Homo sapiens: one gene and its partner. The protein of the gene in region 1 interacts with the protein of each later gene in a biochemical or structural test. Each region holds a gene or a part of one and is shown on either strand. Other genes may lie near its edges. The genes, in order: EIF5B and ETS1.

What was found.
Region 2: the proteins of EIF5B (region 1) and ETS1 form a complex in vitro, tested with the Homo sapiens proteins (one study listed by BioGRID).

Annotation. Positions count from the first base shown.
Region 1 is NC_000002.12:99,330,907-99,341,312, reverse strand, and holds the start of EIF5B (eukaryotic translation initiation factor 5B), read right to left. Parts: upstream 3,925-10,406; 5' UTR 3,759-3,924; coding exon 3,724-3,758; intron 1-3,723. Other genes in the region: TXNDC9 (thioredoxin domain-containing protein 9), read left to right, coding at 8,103-8,291. UniProt on the Homo sapiens protein: Plays a role in translation initiation.
Region 2 is NC_000011.10:128,582,853-128,592,527, forward strand, and holds the start of ETS1 (protein C-ets-1), read right to left. Parts: upstream 4,707-9,675; 5' UTR 4,636-4,706; exon of another isoform or gene 3,825-4,635; coding exon of another isoform or gene 3,788-3,824; exon of another isoform or gene 3,488-3,787; intron 2,077-3,487; exon of another isoform or gene 145-2,076; intron 1-144. UniProt on the Homo sapiens protein: Transcription factor. Directly controls the expression of cytokine and chemokine genes in a wide variety of different cellular contexts. May control the differentiation, survival and proliferation of lymphoid cells.

The DNA of each region.
Region 1 (10,406 bases):
CAAAAGAATTCTGATTATGCATCTTTTTTTGATGTAATTTATGCAGACAAGAGTTTCATTCAAATATATGCAAGTAAGAAATGAATTCCTTTATTAAACCTAGGCTATGTGTATTATATTTGTTTGATATGTGGATATTGAATCCTAGCCTTTGTCTCAACAAGTTTCCCGAGTCAACTGAAAAAGGTCAGGAAAACTTGCTGAACAAACACCACATCAAAATCTCATTCTTAGAATTACACAAACTGGGGCTGAGCGTGGTGAATCACACCTGTAATTCCAGGCCTTTGGGAGGCCAGGGTGGGAGGATCACTTGAGTTCAGGAGTTTGAAACCAGGCAGCCAACATGGTGAAACCCTGTCCCTACTAAAAACACAAAAATTAGCCAGGTGTTGGGCGCCTGTCATCCCAGCTACTTGAGAGGCTGAGGCAGGAGAATCGCTTGAGCCCAGGAGGCGGAGGTTGCAGTGAGTGGAGATCGCGCCACTGTACTCCACCCGGGGTGACAGAGCAAGACTCCATCTCAAAAAAAAAAAAGAAGATTTTTCACAAACTGGAACAGAATTCTAGAACTTGGTCTTTAAGCAAAATTCTAGAATTCTAAAAATACACAGACAAGAATAAATATCTTGATCACTGACACATGCTGTACAAATAAAATTAGGTAAGTTAAAATCTAATTTTAAATGAATACTGAGTGGCTAAGAAGTTAAAATAAGGATTAATTAAATATAAGAATTAAGGACAGTGAGTATTGTATGTTCTGTCCAAGAACTGAAAAGTGGCTCCATGCCTTCTCTTGATAACTAAATAAGCAGTTGTCATTTCTCACACAGTTCACACCTTGCCAGAAACATGCCTGACATAGCCAAGGAGGGGAGGTGGAATGACAGTAAAATCTTTAAAGTGTGGACCTTCACCCAGGAGAATAAAACCGGATCTCTATCTCATTTTACACAAACAAGAATACTAATCCTAAAATTGGACTTTCTCCCTCTAGATTTTCTTTCCAGTCTGTGTTTTTGTCCCATTTACAAATATTCAAAATATCCCTGAAGAAAGGAAAGAAATATTAAAATAAAGGTAAAAAGCTGACTCACAAAGCAGTGGAACTTCCCATTCCCCATCTCCCAATATCTCATGTGGAAGACCAAAATAAAAACCCAAGCAGTTCCAGTCAAAGGGAACTCTGCTAAAGCTCAGGATTTCTTAAACACAATCTGAAAGCCATTCATAAAAAGGAGTCCATGAGGCATTTATACACACACACACTCACAAAATGTATCAATTTCATATATTGGTATATGAGAAAATAAATGTTTTAAAATTATATTGCCACCACTTTCCCTTCAACATGAGCCAAAAACAAACAAACCAAAACAACAACAACAACAACAACAAAACACAGATTAGGTTGAGAGGGGGAAAAAACAGCATTTCTTCTACACAACCAAACCAATCATTTAACAACAGGGTCTAGTGTGCAATTTAAACTTTACAGCATCCCTGAAAATCTTTATAAATCAATGAGACACTCACTTTTCCCTAAAAAGACACAGACAAGAATAAACATCTTGTCTCCCAATGGCTTTTTTCTATTGTGAAAGAGCCTGGAAAGTAAAAAGTGTAAGTAGGGAAACATATAAGCCGGATCGCGCCTGTAGTCCTAGCTACTAGGGAGGCTGAGGTGGGAGGATCACTGGCCAGGAGTTCAAGACCTGACTGGGCAACATAGTGAGACTGCCCCTCCATCTCCAAAAAACAAAACAAAACAAAAACACATATATATGTAATTTTAATCTAAAGAACACATTTGTGTAATCCTAAACCAAACGAACGAATTGAAAAAAAAACTGTAATAAGACAATCAGGGAAATCAGCAAACTGACTGAATATTTGCTAATGTTTAAGAATCACTATTAATATTTCTTACAGATATACTTGGTGGATTTACAGATGAAAAGCTAATGAGATTTGCTTTAAAATATCTAGTAGGTGGGGGCCAGGGGCGATGGATCACGCCTGTAATCCCAGCACTTTGGGAGGCCGAGGCGGGCGGATCACCTGAGGTCGGGAGTTCGAGACCAGCCTGACCAACATGGAGTAACCCCGTCTCTACTAAAAATACACAACTAGCCGGATGTGGTGGTGCATGCCTGTAATCCTAGCTACTCGGAGGCTGAGGCAGGAGAATCGCTTGAACCAGGGAGGTGGAGGTTGCAGTGAGCCGAGATCGCGCCATTGCCCTAAGTTTCTTGTTGTCTGGGCAACAAGAGGGAAACTCCGTCTCAAAAAAAAAAAAAAAATGTATATATATATTTGTGTATATATTTGTATATATATATATTTATATATATGTGTGTATATATATTTGTATATATATATATATACACACACTTCTAGTAGGTGGGATGAAACCAAGCAGGTCATGTGCTAACAATGGTTGAAGGCAGGTAATTAATACATAAAGGCTCATTATACTCAGTTCTCTATTTTCTAGAGACAGCTGAACATTAGCAAGGAAAAAAGTACCCTATACATCAAAAATTCCTGTCAAAAGTACAGAAATTTGTGTTCCCCTACATCACCCATAATCCTTATTTTCTCATTCATCTGGTTTAACAATAATTCAATTCTCCAAACCAATTAACTTCCTCCAATAGACCTAAAACTGAAATACAAGACTATCTTTGTTGTCTTTTAATTCTACTCATAAGCTAGTCAAACGCTAGGTGAGAAAACGATCCAGGCTTCCAATTTATAATTAGTAAACTTATTTTAACTTCAAGACAACATATCTGTTTTGAGTCAGACTGATGAACTAGCACTAGTTTTTTTAATTTACCTTACTCTCCGCCTCGTATTTAAGTTTGGTGGGTAGTGTACGAACGTGTAATGTAACAGATGTTGTTCACTCCCAGGAAGTCAACTCTTTCCATCATGAGTAACAGAACTCAATCGAATGTGACACACAGAAATGTCTCAAAAATCTCTAGGTAAGTAACTCGCATATACCCTTATCCTCCCTCCCCAAAGCATTGCAGGTGGTTAGAAAGGAGCGACCTCGGTTGGTTGGTTTCTTCTTCTTCCCTTCCTTTCTTAGGGGAAGGCTAGAGAGCAAAGAAACGACAAAAAAAAACAGGCCGGAAGAAGGAAAGCGAAAAGCATGAGGGCTGGACAATCAGCCCTTAAATAAACGAAAACTGTATCCAAATCAGATTAAGTTGAGAGACAGCGAACTGCTAAACACCTCCCCATAACTCTAACGTACCTGAAACCGCGAGTAGAGAAACCCGGCCGTACATCACATTCAAGCTCCCTTCCCTCCCAAAGTACTCACAGGTATAAGAGGCATAAAAAGAACTTCCCCACCCTCGCCAAGAGTAGCGCGGAAAAAAACTCACACTGGCCTGGGCCACGCTGGCGAAGCCGCCTGACCCTCCCCGCGCGACCAGGAACCCTCAAATGACTACCCCGCTCCTCAGGCCGGGGAAGGGGTGCCGGGGGAGCGAGGCTCGACTGGGAGGACCCGCCCGCCGTCGAGGCCCTACGTGCCCACCCGGCCCGGGGGCTTGGGCCCGCTCCGCACACTCTGGGCCCAGGCCTGGTACCCCGCGAAGCTCATCGCGAGCCCAGACCCCGGTCCGACGCCGCGCCCGGCGAGACCCGCACACTCCACTGAGCCACGGCGGCCGCCGCCGTACGGACCCAACCCCTATCTACCTGTCTTCGCTCTTGTTTTTCTGTTTCTTCCCCATTGCTTGTCAATGGCGCTCGTGGCCCCAGCCCCTCTATTCGGTCTCTCACAGACCCACTGTCTCCCGGCTGACTTTGGTCTCCGCTCAGCTCTTTTCCCCTCGTGCTGCCGCCGCTCGCACCCGGCTCTCCACAGACCCGCGCACTGGAACAGGACACATATGGTGTGAGTTCTCAGTGCGCAAGCGCATCGCCCAGCCGCCTCGGCGTGAGGACGCAGGGCGCGGCTCATCGAGAGCTGCGCTTCGGGTAGAGCGTCTCCGGTTGACCGGCCGACCAGGCAGCAGCCCGAGCGCCCCCTGCCCTCAAGCGTCCGCCACGAGCCGACACCCGCGGGTTTTCCACGTTCTAGAACCCGGAGGTGGACAATGAAGCTGTCAATTTCGCCACCTCACCCCTCTCCCAACGGGGAACGCACGCTTCGGTTCAGGAGTGGGCTTTGGGCTTCCCTTTATATCTTTGTATTCTCAGCCGCACGAAGTTCAGTAAAGAACCACAACGAACCAATAGAGTCCTCTGGGGGTTTGCGAGAGAGATAAATTCAGGACAAAATAGGGACCTCTCAGTAACATCCATGCATTATGCATTATGTACAGTCACTGAATAAAACAGAACAGGACACAGCCGATCAATTCCCTAACATAGGTCTTCAGCTTCACCCTCAAAGCGAGGGCGAGTTCTAAAAATTCCTGTGTTTCGAAGAGTCAAGAGGGGACCTACAGGGGTGGTGGAAAATGTTCTATATCTGGATCTGGCCGGTGATATTTTGGGTTTTAACTATGCAAAAGTTAATTGTGCTGTATATGTTTATGCCTCGACTTTAGGAAAAATGTTAACAAAAGAAAACAAAAAAAAGAAAAATGTTCATTCAACACTAACAGAATGGAAACGCAGTTCAAGCGTCACGGCTGAGCGAGAGCACAGCTGTCTCATTTCCAGTCTGGCGCACTGGACCGTGAATACTGAAGCACGCTCCTGAGAAAGTCCGGCCACGACAGCCTGCGCACTAAGAAACTGCAACTCCCACAATGCTTTGCGGCCTTCCAGTTCGGCCGTGTACCCGGAGGAAAGCAAGGGTCGGACACCTTGGGTTCCGGGCTGCTGGGCGGGAGGCGCACGCGCAGAACTGTTCGCCACCCGACCGCCCGCCCCTTCCTCTGGCGTCCAAGGTGATATCGCGCGAGGTTCGCAGCCAATAAGGAGGCGGATGTGACGGCCCGTTTGCAGCCGCCGGCAGCTACTGCAAGGCAAAAGCCGGAGTGGACGTGTCTTTTGAAACTGCTGCTCTTTCACTTCTCAGGCGTCACCGAGAGCTCAGGTGAGGCAGAGGGTAGTGAGAAGAATCCGACCACCACGTCCGGGTGCTGGTGAACATTCTGCTGCTCCACATCCGGAGCGGAGGAGGGGCGCGGCCCCAGCACCGGTGTCGGTGTCCTGGCAGAGGCTCTTGCGCAAGCGCACCAGGAGGCGTCGAAGTTGGGGCCACCGGGACTGTGCTTTCCTCTGTTTCCCCGGGCGCAGGGAGTGGCCGGCTTGCCATTGGGGAGGTACCTGGGGTTCAGTTAAGGACCAGGCCCCTTGATTGTTTTGGCGGATACCTGTAAGGGTGTCCAGGAAATGACTAGGGAATTTGAGGACGCGCTGTGTCCCGTCCCACCCTTCCAGCGGAGCTGTAAAAAGGAAGAATCAGAGGCTGTGGTTTGAAAAATGAAAAGCTAACGAGGGGTTGCATCGTCTCTTTACCCCATTCTCAATGCTCTGACCACCAACACCTACACCCAGAATAGCTCTTCTTAATCTCGTCTTTTTCCAGTTATCCCATAATTAAATTCTGGGCTCATTCTATAAAGTTCCAGGGTAGGCATTCTCTGTGCTTATCCCTGGAGCACAGCTTCCAACGTTCAATTCAGTATCTTATTATCTTCTCCTTCCAGCCCCCTCACTGAGGGTCACAGTCCTACTGACATTTTTCTTGGGCGATAGGGAGCGTGGAAATCTTTGCTGTGTTTGAAATACAGCACCTTTCCAATTTTATAGCACTCACGAGGAGCTTACAATTTGGTTTTTTAGACTCAAATACTTTTGAAACTTAACAGTGTAGTAATTTGAACAGAAGTCAGGCACGTGTTCATTCAACGTTAAATACATGTTTATTGAGTACCTGCTGTGTTCTATGGAGATACAAAGATGAAATCAAGTATGCTTTTCAAATCCTTTTCCTGTAAAGAAAAAGGAATCAGAATTGAAGTTTGCAAGAATATTTCTCTTCAGCTCAACGTTTATAGAGGGCCTGTGTGGGTCAGAATCTGTGTCAGAAGCTGAGTGAATGAATTCACAGTTTGTTGTGAAGTTTGGGGTGCTTCAGTATTATTTGCAAATGTATCATAGTTCATTGATATGCAACAGCCTCCTGCTTTGATAGGCAAATTATAAATCATTTCTGCAGTAATAACCCTGAGATACACATAAACTTGCCCTCTAATTGTTGGTATAAAATTTCTCGTACAAAATACTCCATTTCTTTTAAAAGAAGTAAAATTTTGGCCGGGCGCGGCTGGCTCACGCCTGTAATCTCAGCACTTTGGGAGGCCGAGGCGGGCGGATCACGAGGTCAGGAGATCGTAGCCATCCTGGCTAACACGGTGAAACCCCGTCTGTACTAAAAATACAAAAAGAAATTAGCCGGGCGTGGTGGCGGGCGCCTGTAGTCCCGGCTACTCGGGAGGCTGAGGCAGGAGAATGGCGTGAACCCAGGAGGCGGAGCTAGCAGTGAGCGGAGATGCGCCACTGCACTCCAGCCTGGGCGACAGAGCGAGACTCCGTCTCAAAAAAAAAAGTAAAATTTTGTACTAATTGCTAGTACAAAATACTCCATTTCTTTTAAAATATATAGTCATGTGCCACATAAGGACATTTCAGTTTTATGAGATTGTAATACTGTATTTATCGTACCTTTTCTATGTTTAGATACACAAATGCCATTATGTTACAGTTGTCTGCAGTATTCAGTACAGTAACATGCTGTACAGATTTGTAGCCTAGGAGTAATAGGCTGTATGGCATAGCCTAGGTGTGTAGCAGGCTGTACCATCTGGGTTTGTGTAAATAGTCTATAATGTTTGAAACAATATCAAAATCACCTAATGATGCATTTCTCAGAATGTATTCTCATTGTTTTGTGGGTTTTTGGTTTTTGGTTTTTGAGACAGGGTCTGGCTCTGTTGCCCAGGGTGGGGTGCAAGTGGTGCGTTCTCAGCCCACTGCAACCTCTGCCTCCTGGGCTCAAGGTATCCTCCTCCCACTTCAGCCTCCCTAGTAGCGGGGACTACAGGCACACACCACCGGGCCTGGCCAATTTTTCTATTTTTAGTAGAGACAGGGTTCCATCATGTTTCCCAGGCTGGTCTCAAACATCTGAACTCAAGTGATCTGCCCACCTTGGCCTCCCAAAGTGCTGGGATTACAGGCGTGAGCCATAGCACCCAGCCTAGAATATATTCCCATTGTTAAGTGATGCATGACTAATTGAGATAGGTCTTCCTTTCTAATCTGAATTAGTTCTATTTTGAAACTCTGATTTTACACAGAGGAGTGATGTTGGAAAAAAACCCAAAATTTAGAAAAGTATTTGGAGTGTTTTACATCAAAGTTAACACTGTCAGTAAATGGAAACCAGTATTAATTTTTGTGACCTCATAGACTTTTTTGTTAGGTAATGGGAGAACAGGAATGGACATTAATGCTCAGGGAACACCAGGCACTCTTCTTTACATAAATGGTAATGAGACGTCTTAGGAGTTAAATGAAACTCATTTGGGCAGCAGCCATGAAAAAAATCTGTGTTTTGCTCAACTGTACTCTGTGTTTAAGTAAAGTTTAATATATATATTTATGTGTAAAACCTCAGTAGGTATACCTTCCTATTGTTCGCAGTTGTTTCTGATTTCTCTTTCCCATTGGTAAAGAACACTGATTGTCAGTATATATCACTAGGTATAACTTCACAACTCATTTCTCTGTGGTTTGGTGATGGTCTTAAAGACTTGTCTTGGCTTTAGTATAGTAAAACATATGCTAAATCAGAAGCACCCTAAATTTGCTGTAAGTAGTTTTTGAGTGGTGTGACTAGAACCTACTGAGAATTAAATTTAAAAACACATAAAAATTGTTAAGCCCAGCATCAAGTGCTTGGATGTCGTTAGAATACTCCATAGAGTACACATTATACACTTGCCAGAATTTTTGAAAATGGTAGAGAAAACCTTGCTTATTGTTTGCATTTTTTAAAATGTATTTTGTAAATCTTCTCCCCAGCACCCAGGCTGAACTCTGTACCATTTGGAAGAATGGAAGCTGATGCATCTGTTGACATGTTTTCCAAAGTCCTGGAGCATCAGCTGCTTCAGACTACCAAACTGGTGGAAGAACATTTGGATTCTGAAATTCAAAAACTGGATCAGATGGATGAGGATGAATTGGAACGCCTTAAAGAAAAGAGACTCCAGGCACTAAGGAAAGCTCAACAGCAGAAACAAGTAACCTCTCTGCCCTGCTTTCTGAAATTGCTATAACAGTATGCGCCTAACAACTTATATATACATGTGCTGTAGTAGTTACATTTCGTTCTTTGTGTTTAGGGTTTTTAAAATTCAGAATACCTATTACTGTTAAAAATTTGCCCAGAAAAAAATATGTTTTAAAGACATTCAAAATTAGCCCAATCTCTATATTAATCCACAGTCGAGTAAAAGAAAGATCTGCCCAAGATCGTTTTTCTGAGCTTGGATTTGTTTGGTTGAATGGAGGGCTAGGGAGTCATTGGTTTCCATTTCAGGTAATATTAAAGCCGATTTAGCTATTTTCAAAGCAAACGAGATAAGACAGATGAGATAAGAGCAATTAAGTCAATTTATGTTGAAAAATGTATTTCAGGCATTTCCAATGAAATAATTATGTGGCATATTCAAAAGAATGCATGCTTTGTAACAAAGGTGGCCACAGCTCTATCGTTGTTGCCTCTTAGAATGTTTGTGTAGAATAAACGCAGAGTTGTAAACTCTGACTGAAACCAGTGGATTAAATTCTGTAAATTGAAATTTTTTTTTCTGCTTTTTGAGATGGAGTCTCGCTGTGACACCCTGGCTGGAGTACAGTGGTGTCATCTCAACTCACTGCAACCTCCGCTTCCCGGCTTCAAGCAATTATTCTGCCTCAGCCACCCGAGTAGCTGGGACTACAGGCGCACACCACCATGCCTGGCTAAGTTTTGTATTTTTAGTAGAGATGGGGTTTCGCCATGTTGGCTAGGCTGCCCTTGAACTTCTGACCTCAAGTGATCCGCCCACCTTAGCCTGCCAAAGTGATGGGATTACAAGCGTGAGCTACCGCACCTGGCCAAATTGAATTTTGATTAAAACATTTTTTCCACTGGGTTACATGGAAATACTTTATCACCAACTCTGGTTCCTTTTCAGTTGACTGTGACTTAAACATGAGGCTTAACTTTTCTGAAGAAATAGGGAGTTTTGACCGGGCATGGTGGTTCACATCTGTAATCCCAACACTTTGGGAGTCCAAGGTGAGCGGACAACCTGAGGTCGGGAGTTCAATACCAGCCTGGCCAACATGGTGAAACCCTGTCTCTACAAAAAATACAAAAATTAGCCAGGTGTGGTGGCGCACACCTGTAGTCCCAGCTACTCAGGAGGCTGAGGCAGGAGAATCTCTTGAACCCGGGAGGTGGAGGTTGCCGTGAGTCGAGATTGTGCTACTGCACTCCAGCCTGGATGATAGAGCAAGACCCAGTTCCCCCACAAAAAAAGAGAAGGAGTTTTGTTTGTATTGCTGTAGCATCACTTTGATATGTTTACACCCTCATGTTTAGAAGAGTTACTACAAAAGGAAATAATCTTTTATAAGTGAGTCCAAATTTTTATATTTTGAGTTTCTAAAATAGAGTACGTTATATGGCTTTTACCTGTACCCTACCGTATTTTAAAAAATAGGCTGCTTTTCTTTTTCTTTTCTTTCTTTTTTTTTTTTTTTTTGAGAGGGAGTCTCACTCTGTTGCCCATCCTGCCTTGACCTCTCAAGTAGCTGGGATTACAGGTGCCTGCCACCATGCCCAGCTGATTTTTGTACTTTAGTAGAGATGGGGTTTCATCATGTTGGTCAGGCTGGTCTCAAATTCCGACCTCAAATGATCCGCCTGCCTCAGCCTCCCAAAGTGCTGGGATTACAGGTGTGAGCCACCCCACACCAGGCCCAATTGGCTTCTTTTCATAGTATAGGGCTGATAATTAGTATGCAAAGGACGGATTATTGGAATTTAAGGTAATATATGTTTAGGTTCTGCCACAAACTCATATTTCATAGTCACATTTAAGTACTAATTGCTAATGTGCAACTAAAAATAATTATTTGTAACTAGGATATTTTTGTAGAGAGACTGAATTCACCTGATTTGCAGTGATGAACATACGTTAAATAATGTCTTAAAGGAACTTTTTGGCAGTTCAAAACAGTGGTCTGAATATAATTAAAACCAACTAAGGCAGACTGGCTATAAGCCTTTTTTATTATTAATGTATAAATCAATTTAAAATGAATTTGTCATCGAGTAATTCAGAGGGTCTTATTTTAGAACTTTC
Region 2 (9,675 bases), on another chromosome or scaffold:
ATGTCGATCTTTTGTGGACTTACGCTTTAGCAACTAGATACAAATATAAGGAAGTAGTAAAGCACTGCGGAAAATAGTGCAAGATTTCTTGTTTGTTCATTTTTTTCATTTTTGCTTTTTCATTTGTTTTTGCTTTTTCTTTAGAGCAGTGCCTCCCAAACTGTAATGTGCATATGAATCACCCGGGGATCCTGTTACAATGCAGTCTGCTGCAGTAGGTCTGAGGTCTGGCCAGACATTCCACATTTCTAACAAGCTCCCACGTGGTGCTGATGCCGCAGGTCAGAGGACTTCACTGTGAGTAGCAAGGCAGCGCTGGACTAACTTGGTTGAACTCATGAGTGATTATAACAAGGTAGGTGTTTAGGAGGCAGAGCCCAAGGAGGAACAGGCAAGACTTCTGTGCCAAGGCTGAGCAGATGCTGGTAACCTCAGGTGCAATACAAACCCGGCTGGGGAGAATTGAGTAGCTCAGGACCTGTCAGTGTCTCAGGAGCCATATGCCAGATGCACATCTGCCAAGACTTCTTGCTTTTCCTAAGAAGACATGGTTCTAGTTATTTGGTCCCTTTTATCAAGAAACTGGCAATGGTGCTTTCTCCCATCAACAGAAGTCATTTGGATTAAGGATTACAAGAGGTGCCAAGAGATAATTTAAAAGAGTTATTTGCATTATATGTTTTTTTTTACAATTGTAAAAGACTCACATGTTTTGGAAACTTTTTGTACATTGTTTTGCAAACTTTTATGCATCTGGAATTATTTCAAAGTGAAAAGTTTTTTTTAAGTCTCTAAAAAGACTAAATCTCTTTTAAATCTCTAAAAAGACCAAAATTCTGGAGTTTTCTACCTTTCCACATCTCTTGAAAATTTATATATTTTTTCCTCCCCATTGAGAATATTTTCCTGACATTTGCACTAAATGTTTGTTGCTTACTCTCATGCTAGTAAGTACTACCCAGCCTGTTCCCTCTAAGTTCTGAAGGCAGCTCCAACACTTGATTACTGGAATATGAAATCTATCCTCTTTTGAAAAAAAGGCAGATCAGAAACATCCTTCCCTCACTGCTCTAGATACCATTTTTTTCTACCTGAACTCCCAAAGCATGTATAGGTTATACTACACTACTTAATAATTATATTGTCTTTCATTTTTATCCTCTTTTCTAGTAAAGATTATTGTGTTAATTTTAAAAATGGAGTTTACATATTGTTTCTTCTGTGTTTGGTATGGTCTCCAGCACAAGGCTGGGCATGGAGTAGAAATAAAACTGATATTTGTCAGGGAAGGGACTGACTTACTTACCCAGGAAACTAGGCCTGGGTAGTCTTTCTTCAAAGTCAGTATCTTCATAACAATGAATAAGTAATCCACAGATACCACTTCAGAAAACAGGCTTAATCCAGTGTTCTCCTAGATAAGCAAATCAGTCTAAGCAGAAAAATCTATCCTAAATTTGTGTAAATGTCTTAGAGTTACTTAGATTCCTATGACATGCAGTTCCAATCACAAGCTCTGGGTTCACATTCCATTGGCTCTAATCAGGGTCCACCATGAGTTAACACGGTCATATGACTGAGCCTCAGAGTCCCCACCTGGTAAATGGGGATGACGAGAGTGGAGTGCCCACCTCAAAACTTCATTGTAGATTAAATGAAGCAGTCCCTGCAAAGCACCTAGCAAGGATGTTGGAACATACCAAGTGCTCAGTAAACGTTAGGGCTGAGTATTCCTCCTTAGGTGAAATGAAGAAGAATGGATATGATAACTAGAAAATCATCTACATTAAAAGGTGGAGTTCAATAAGCTATACTTTCAGTACAGCAGGGATAAAGGAGATGAGGAAGCAAAAAGTAAGTTATGTCTTCACATCTAATTTTTCCCAGGATTGAAGAAACTTAAAAGATTTGCCTGAAATGCCACTAAATTGCTGCATACCACATTAATTTTGCTCAAATGCTAAATACTTTATCATTTCCATAATGAAGAAAGAAAGGGAGGAAAGGGAAGGAGGAGGGAAGAGGGAGAGAGAGAAGAAGAAGAAAGGAGGGGAGAGAAAAGAAAGAAAGAGGAAGAAAAAAGAGAAAAGAAAGAAAGAAAGAAAGAAAGAAAGAAAGAAAGAAAGAAAGAAAGAAAGGAAGGAAGGAAGGAAAGAAAGGAAAGAAAGAAGAAAGAAAGAAAAGAAAGAAAGAAAGAAAGAAAGAAAGAAAGAAAGAAAGAAAGAGAAAGAAAGAAAGGAAAGAAAGAAAGGAAGGAAGGAAGGAAAGAAAGAAGAAAGAAAGAAAAGAAAGAAAGAAAGAAAGAAAGAAAGAAAGAGAAAGAAAGAAAGAAAGAAGGAAGGAAAGAAAGAAAGAAAGAAAGAAAGAAAGAAAGAAAGAAAGAAAGAAAGAAAAAGAAAGGAGGGAGGGAGGAAAGAAAGAAGGAAAAGAAAAGAAAGATAGAAAGGGAGGGAAGGGAGGGAAGAAGGAAGGAAGGAAGCAAGGAAGGAAGGAAGCAAGGAAGGAAGGAAGGGTCCCAGCTCGTGGGACGTAATCATTCCCTTCTGCTGTTTGATGTGAACAGTTGGGAATTTTGAACTGGTAATTAGAAAATGATAGTCACTATGGAAAACAGATCTATTCACCAATAATTAAAATCACAAGGTACATCAGAACCTCAGTTATCAGTAAGAAATTCACCAGTGCAATCAAAGAGAGAAATCTGTTGATTATTTGTTTGCAGTGTTTTGCCTTCTGCCTCACCCTCCCCTAGGTGAGAGGACCTGCACCCACACACCCAGTTTGTTGAAGTATTACTTCAGACAGTCCTTGACCTCACTGGCACTCTGATTTTTCATAGCCCTATGCTGTTTACTTCTATTCTCTCATATTTGTAAACCAGGCGGGGCGCAAATGATTGCTCACCTTTTAGAGATGAAGGGAAGAAGGCACAGACACGTTCAATCCCTGTTCTCTGTTACAAAGCTAATCACTGACATAATCCAAGTGCACAGCCACTTTCCCTTCTCCGACCCAGCGCTGGTTCAAGTTCTGACCCCACTTGCCTTTGAACTCCATTATCGTCCGGGACCGGCCACTGGCCCAAGTCGGTGCTCTGGCCACAGACTGCCAGATGCCAAAGGATCCCACCCCTCTACCAGCTTCCCCCAGGCTCTGCCTCAGGACATCCTTTCACAGCCAGCAACTAGCACCTCCGTGTAAGGAGCCTGCCGGGCAAAGATGCCCCCTCCATAATTAGGCTCTCGGCTTGGCTTCCCACATCCTCAGCAGCGGAACCAGGACGGAAGAGGCTGCATGGATGCCTGAACTGTTTGTTATTTCACTATTGAGTTGGCAAGGATGGAAGTAGTTGATTTACAATTAGAAGCAGCATGCTTCTTCAAATATTAATATTAATAACTGCACTACTGAACACATGAAAAGACCTTTTCATCTTCAAAGCACTTTGCAGACATTAACCCATTAGCTCTCCCTTCCCTCCATTCAGGAACAACAGGTGAGCAAGACTCTCAACAGCAGCAGTGGCCACCCTGCAGCCCTTGTGCACAGCCCACGGCCCCTGAAGAAAAAGCGTTTTCTCTTTGGATAAAAATAGGCCACCAAACCCAAAACCACAACTGATGAAAGAGTTATAGTATCAGTAATTTTACAAATCAAATGGAGCTGATGGAGTTATCATTTTAGAATTGGTATTTCCTGCTGTTTAACAAATACTTTTTTCTCAGTTGCATGGCAGTGGTCTAAAGTAAGAAGGAAAATGGACTTGAGATTAAAAACAAAAACTTACCCAAAAGGTGATAAAGAAATCCTGCAATAGAATGCATTGATTTCAGTGACCCAGCACCCTTTTAAGTTTGCCTGAAGAAAATACTACTTTAAAAGTTGGTAACAGAGACCTTTAACGGTGGGTGAGGAGTCACATACAAAGTGTCACGGCCAGATAAAATCACCGGATGCAGAGGAATTGCCATCGACATCTCCTGCCACTGAGTCCAGCTCTACCGTGGGGACAAGAAATACCTCCCTAACTCTGAGACAACCGCGGCCCACACCCACACCATGTCTCAACAACAGACTTAGGAACTTGTAGATCTTTGGACAACTGCAGGTCAGTCCCAAGACAGAGAAAAACACCAAACAGGCTAGTTTGGCTAGCAAGATTCAAACCTGTAGCAATTTCCTCTCTATTAAAAGCAATTCATTAAACTACTAGCAGGAGAAAAAAGTAAAACAATAGATTTACTAGGAGTGAAAGAGAATAAAAAGAAATTTATATATTTAACTACAGCTTTATTTCTTTGGAAGTGCTCCAATTTGCAAAAAAAAAAAAAAAAAATCAGGGTTTCTGACAAGTAATCTACGGGTATCTAAAACGTGCATGGTTTTACTTTTGTGAAGCAGGGAACATTTTTAAAAACATAGTCTTGCTTTCAGACTATTCTGACGAGGTTAGGAAGTATTTTTGAAAATTGTTAAACAATTAAATGGGAATATAGAAAGACGTGAAAAGAGAAAGAGAAAACTCACTTGTATCCTGAATCTCCCTACCGACTTACTCTTTAATTCCACAGAAATTTTTTTAAAGCAGGAAAAGGAAAATGGACTGAAAAGTTTTAGGCAGAAACTGACACACACCTCACTTACTACTTTGCCGGAGAGCAGATCCTGAGTGAGCTTCCCTCAAAGTCTGTGGTCTCTTTCCAACTACCTGCGGGAATCCTCTGCTCCGTAGCTTAAGAGGATGCAAAGACCATAATGTTTCTAATAGAGCTGCCTCCTTAAATTGGGGGGTGTGGTCAAGCCAGGGAAAGCTGGAAAAAAGGCAGTCTTCCTCTTGCCCCTGGCACCAGGACAGCAGCCACTGGCACAGGCACAGCAGTCTAGGTGGAAAGCACTGTTGATTGACAGTGGTGGCACCAAATCACACATTATTTCGTATTCTTCAAATTGTGCTTCAGCTGAATATAACTCAGCCTTGGAGAGTAACAGGGAGGGAGATGAGCAAAAGGGAACTAGTTCAGTGGGATAACACTGTATCTCACCTCATCATTTGCTGATGCATTTACTCTCTGCTGAATATGTAAATATTCATGCTTCATGTTCCTTGACTTTCTCAATGGAGCCCCCATTAACCTAGGCAAGGTCTCAGGTGAGGGAAAGGGATTGCTTTAGAAACACAGGACGTCCACCACCCAGTCACCTGCTCAGGCTTCCCGTTTCTCTCTAATAACTTGATATGAAATGTGATATTTTCTAAAGAAAAGAAAATAATTTTGTGGAAGAGAGCTGACTGGATATGGACTTGGGATTTCTGAAAAGTAAAGCTAAAAATCCCCTTTTCATATAAGTCTGGTTTTAGGCAATCTCTAAAATAAGGATACTTTTAGCAGCCCTGACTCATGGTCCGTGGTGCAGGAATAAAAGGGCAGAAGTGTTCATACATTTCTCATTTAGGGAAAATGTAAACAATATGAAAATCTTACATCTGTCCTAAGTGAAAATACACAGCATCTTTTATTCACATATTCAGGACTATGGTAAGAATGTTACAGCATAATCTCATTTCTATGAATGGAGTTATTACAATTTTTTTTGAGAAGTCAGTATTTGGCTGCTTAATCTAAGACTTTTATCCTAAAAGATTCCATCTTCTTTGAGTAGGAGGTGGGAGTTAAGATTTGTCATAGTTGGCTTCTTTCTCTTTTTAATAAAGATACAAACTTAGAAAATCCTTGAAAATCTAATAACTGTCATTTGGAGCCATATCATCATCAGCCTTCATTGTATAAAGCTGGCAATGCAGTTAAGATGACATTGTAAGTAAAGCAAGATTTTACTGCTCATCTTCTGCCTTTGCACATTAACTTGGAAGTAAGGAAGAGGTAATGCTATTGGTTCACTTTAGTTTAATAAATTGCCTGTGCCAGGCACTGTTCTAGGCACTAGAAAGATAGCAAGTTTGCATTGTAGTGAGGAGACAGACACATAAATCAACGATCTCCCCCCAAAAATGTAATACATGCTACAAAAGAAGTCTATGAAGAGAGCTAGGGAAGCTTCAGCCTGCCCCTGTAACCCAGTCAATTTCAGCACACTGCCCCATTTAAAGAGCCCACGGTCAATTATACCAATCATAACTAATTACAACTGTATTCACTATGTTTGCAGGATAATTGAAAAAAACAAAGTTGAGAAGACTTGGATTCTTGCTCTATAAGGGTGTACAGTGTGGCTGTCAAGGGGTTCTGAAGTCTGGAGTTGTCTATGCTGAGTTTATATAGAAAGCAACTCTTCAGGACCTTAGCTCCCTCCTCTGACACGGCCTTTTACGGTGTGGAAGAACATAAACTAGAAATCTTAATAGTGCAAAATAAGCCACCACTGTCATAAATTGCCTAGAGAATGCCCAGGAAAACAGTAAGTTTTGTTTTAAACAGTATTTTCAAAAATATAACATTAGATGGGTATCCACATATAAGAGCATGACATTGGACTCCTACCTTACACCATACTCAAAAATTAACAAAAATCTATCAAAGATCTGAACATAAGAATGAAAATTATAAAATTCTTAGAAAAAATCAAAGAAGAAAACTTCATGACATTGGATTTAGCAATGATTTCCTGGGATATGACAGCTTATCCCAGGAAAAAAAACTTGGGCAACAAAAGAAAAAATAGATAAGTTGGACTTTATCAAAGTTTTAAAATGTTGTACATCAAGGGGCACTATTAAGACAGTGAAAGGGAAGTCCACAGAATGAGAAAAAAAATTGCAAATCACATATCTAATAAGGACTTAATACTCAAAATATATAAAGAACTCCTACAACTCAACAGCAACAACAACAAATAACCTGATCTAAAAGTGGACAAAAGACATGAGTAGACATTTCTCCAAAGATGCAGAAATGGCCAATAAACACACGAAAAGAAGGGCAACATCATTAATCATCAGAGAAATGCACATTCGAACCACAGTGAGGTACCTCTTCACATCTATTGGGGTTCCTATTATCAAAGAAACAGAAAATAATGGCAAGAATAAGGAGAAATAGGAATAAGGGTGTGTTGCTGCTGAGAATGTCAAATGGTGCAGCCACTGTAGAAAACAGTGTGGTAGTTCCTCAAAACAATTAAATATAAAATTACCATTTGATCTAGCAATTCAACCTCTACATATATAGCCACAAGCATTGAAAGAAGAACTCAAAAAGATGTCTGCACAATATTGTTCATAACAGCGTTATTCACAATAGCCAAAAGGTAGAAACACCCCAACTATTTATCCACAGATAAATGGATAAGCAAAATGTGGTATGTACAGAAAATGGAACATTATTCAGCCTTGAAAAAGAATGAAATTCCAATACATGCTACAGTATGATGAACCTTGAGGACATTATGCTAAATGAAATAAACCAAATACAGAAAAGACAAATATTGTGTAATTCTACCTGTATGAAGTACCTAGAATAGTAAAATTTATAGAGACAGAAAAAGGGATAGAAGTTAACACAGGTTGGAGAAAGGAGAATGGGGAATTCGTGTTTAATGGGGACAGAGCTTCGGTTGGGGATGATAAAAAAGGAATGGAGATGGATGTGGGTGATGGTTGCACAACATGTGACTGTACTTAATGCCCCTGAATTGTACACTTAAAAATTGTTCAGATGGTAAATTTTACGTTACATGTATTCTACCACAATAAAAGAATATGTTGTCCCGAGGGAAAAAAAAAATATATATATAGCATTAGAAGTCAGTAGGCTTCCGCAGAAGGAATGCTTTCTGATCCACATGGATAATATAGGACAAAAGAAAATGATGCTCTAGAAGAAGAAGGTATGAAATCCCTGGAGGATCCCTCCACTGCACGGTGGTGGCTCCCCAGCCCCTCCCTTATGCCGGCTCTTGAAGAGGGTGTAGTAATACCAGCCCAACTTCACAGGGTTGCTGAAATCACCATGCGATTAGATGACTGTGTAAACAGTAGAAGCAATGCTTTTCTTTCCCATGTCCATAGATAGCTCTATGAGGAAAGACCTCAATTGATAGGGCAATATGACCATTATGATTCTCAAGGAAAAAATTAAAACTCAGTGATCCAGGGACATGGGTACCTTTTGATCCCATGTAAAAGGGATATGCAAAATGAGTTGTTTGCTTCTTTGAAGGAGTATCTCTGTAGCCTCACCTAAACAATCGTAGTCTCAATATAGTTTGGATACAAGTGAGACAGAGCATGAAGGAATTTCTAGAATAGCTTTTCTTACTGTAAGGAAACCTTTTTCCTTTTCTCAGTATAACAAGTTACCTTGTAAGTTAGTATGTCTTAAGAGGAAAAATGGAAGTAAATTCCCAGAATCTTAGCTCTGCAAAGGTCTTCAACGCTCCCACCAGCAACCTTCCCTCACTGCCACCCCAACTCCCTAAAGTGCAGAAGTCCCCTTCAAAGCAACTTATAATGATTCTGTAAAACCACCCGCTGCAGGAAAAGTGTGAAGTTTGAAATTAAAAATGGCATTAAATTTAAGGAAAAGCAAAGCAAAACATTACACACGTATTGCATTTTCCATATTAACTTTCCTTCCATCTCAGAAAAAAGCCTCGTGATAATTCAGAAGACTTCATATGTGCAGAGAACCAGTATCTAAACAAACTACCAAAACCAAGTAGAGTGAAACCCAGATACTATTACAAGCGTGGTTATCACCAAATATTGAAAAGAAAAAGAAAATATGCTGAAAATAAAGCAAAGAGCAGAGAACCATTGTGCATTGCCACTCCAGCTCTGGAACTTCTTAGCCTGTACTTTGCAATGACTCTCTCTCCTTCCCATGATCAAAAGCAAAGCCTTTGTCTTGAGCCACAGCTGAGACTGCAATGGCACACATACGTGTGCACACATCTGGCACACAGGTGCTCATCCTTCTGTGTGTGCCAGAGAGCCTATGGAGACCCGGATTTCTTGGCGTAGTCTTCCCACAACCCCTGATGTGCTGCTCCATTAGTCCTTGCACCAACTTTCTGGTTTTTTCTTCCTCTCTAGAATGTAGAATGAGCTGGGCACAGGCCCCCAGGTAGACTCCCTGCAAAGTAGCTTAGCTAATGTCGGTCAAAAATTCTTCTCCATCCTGGTTCCACTGGGCCTGCTAAACATCCTGTGGACTCCACAAACTCAGAGAGTTTCAGCAGAACGGACCCTTCTGGGATGTATGATAGCCCACTGAAAACCCCATATCTTGCCACCCCCTCCTTCCACCCCCATTCCTTTCTATGTACTTTTTGTCACTCTGTCTCCCTGGTCCCTTCTCCCTCAAAATACTTCTCACTTTTTCTCTCTGTCAGTCTAACTCCTACAAAGTTATTTTTCAATCTCAATTTAATTACAGGATGAATATGCGGTTGTAGCATATTCAAGTCATACAGAAGGGTATGAATTCAAAAATGAGAATCACCACTTCGGGTCCCCTTCCACCCAGTCTCACACCAAAAAGCTAACTACTATTTAGGGTTTGATATCCAGCCCTCCAGTCTTTCCTCTATTCTTATACCCATACTGGGCCTTTTTAATGGGATTGTGTTCGATGTATTGTTCTGGGACCTTCTACCATGCATCCGGCAGTATGTTCAGCAGCTATGTCTTTCCAGATTGGCCCCTTCGGAGCTGCC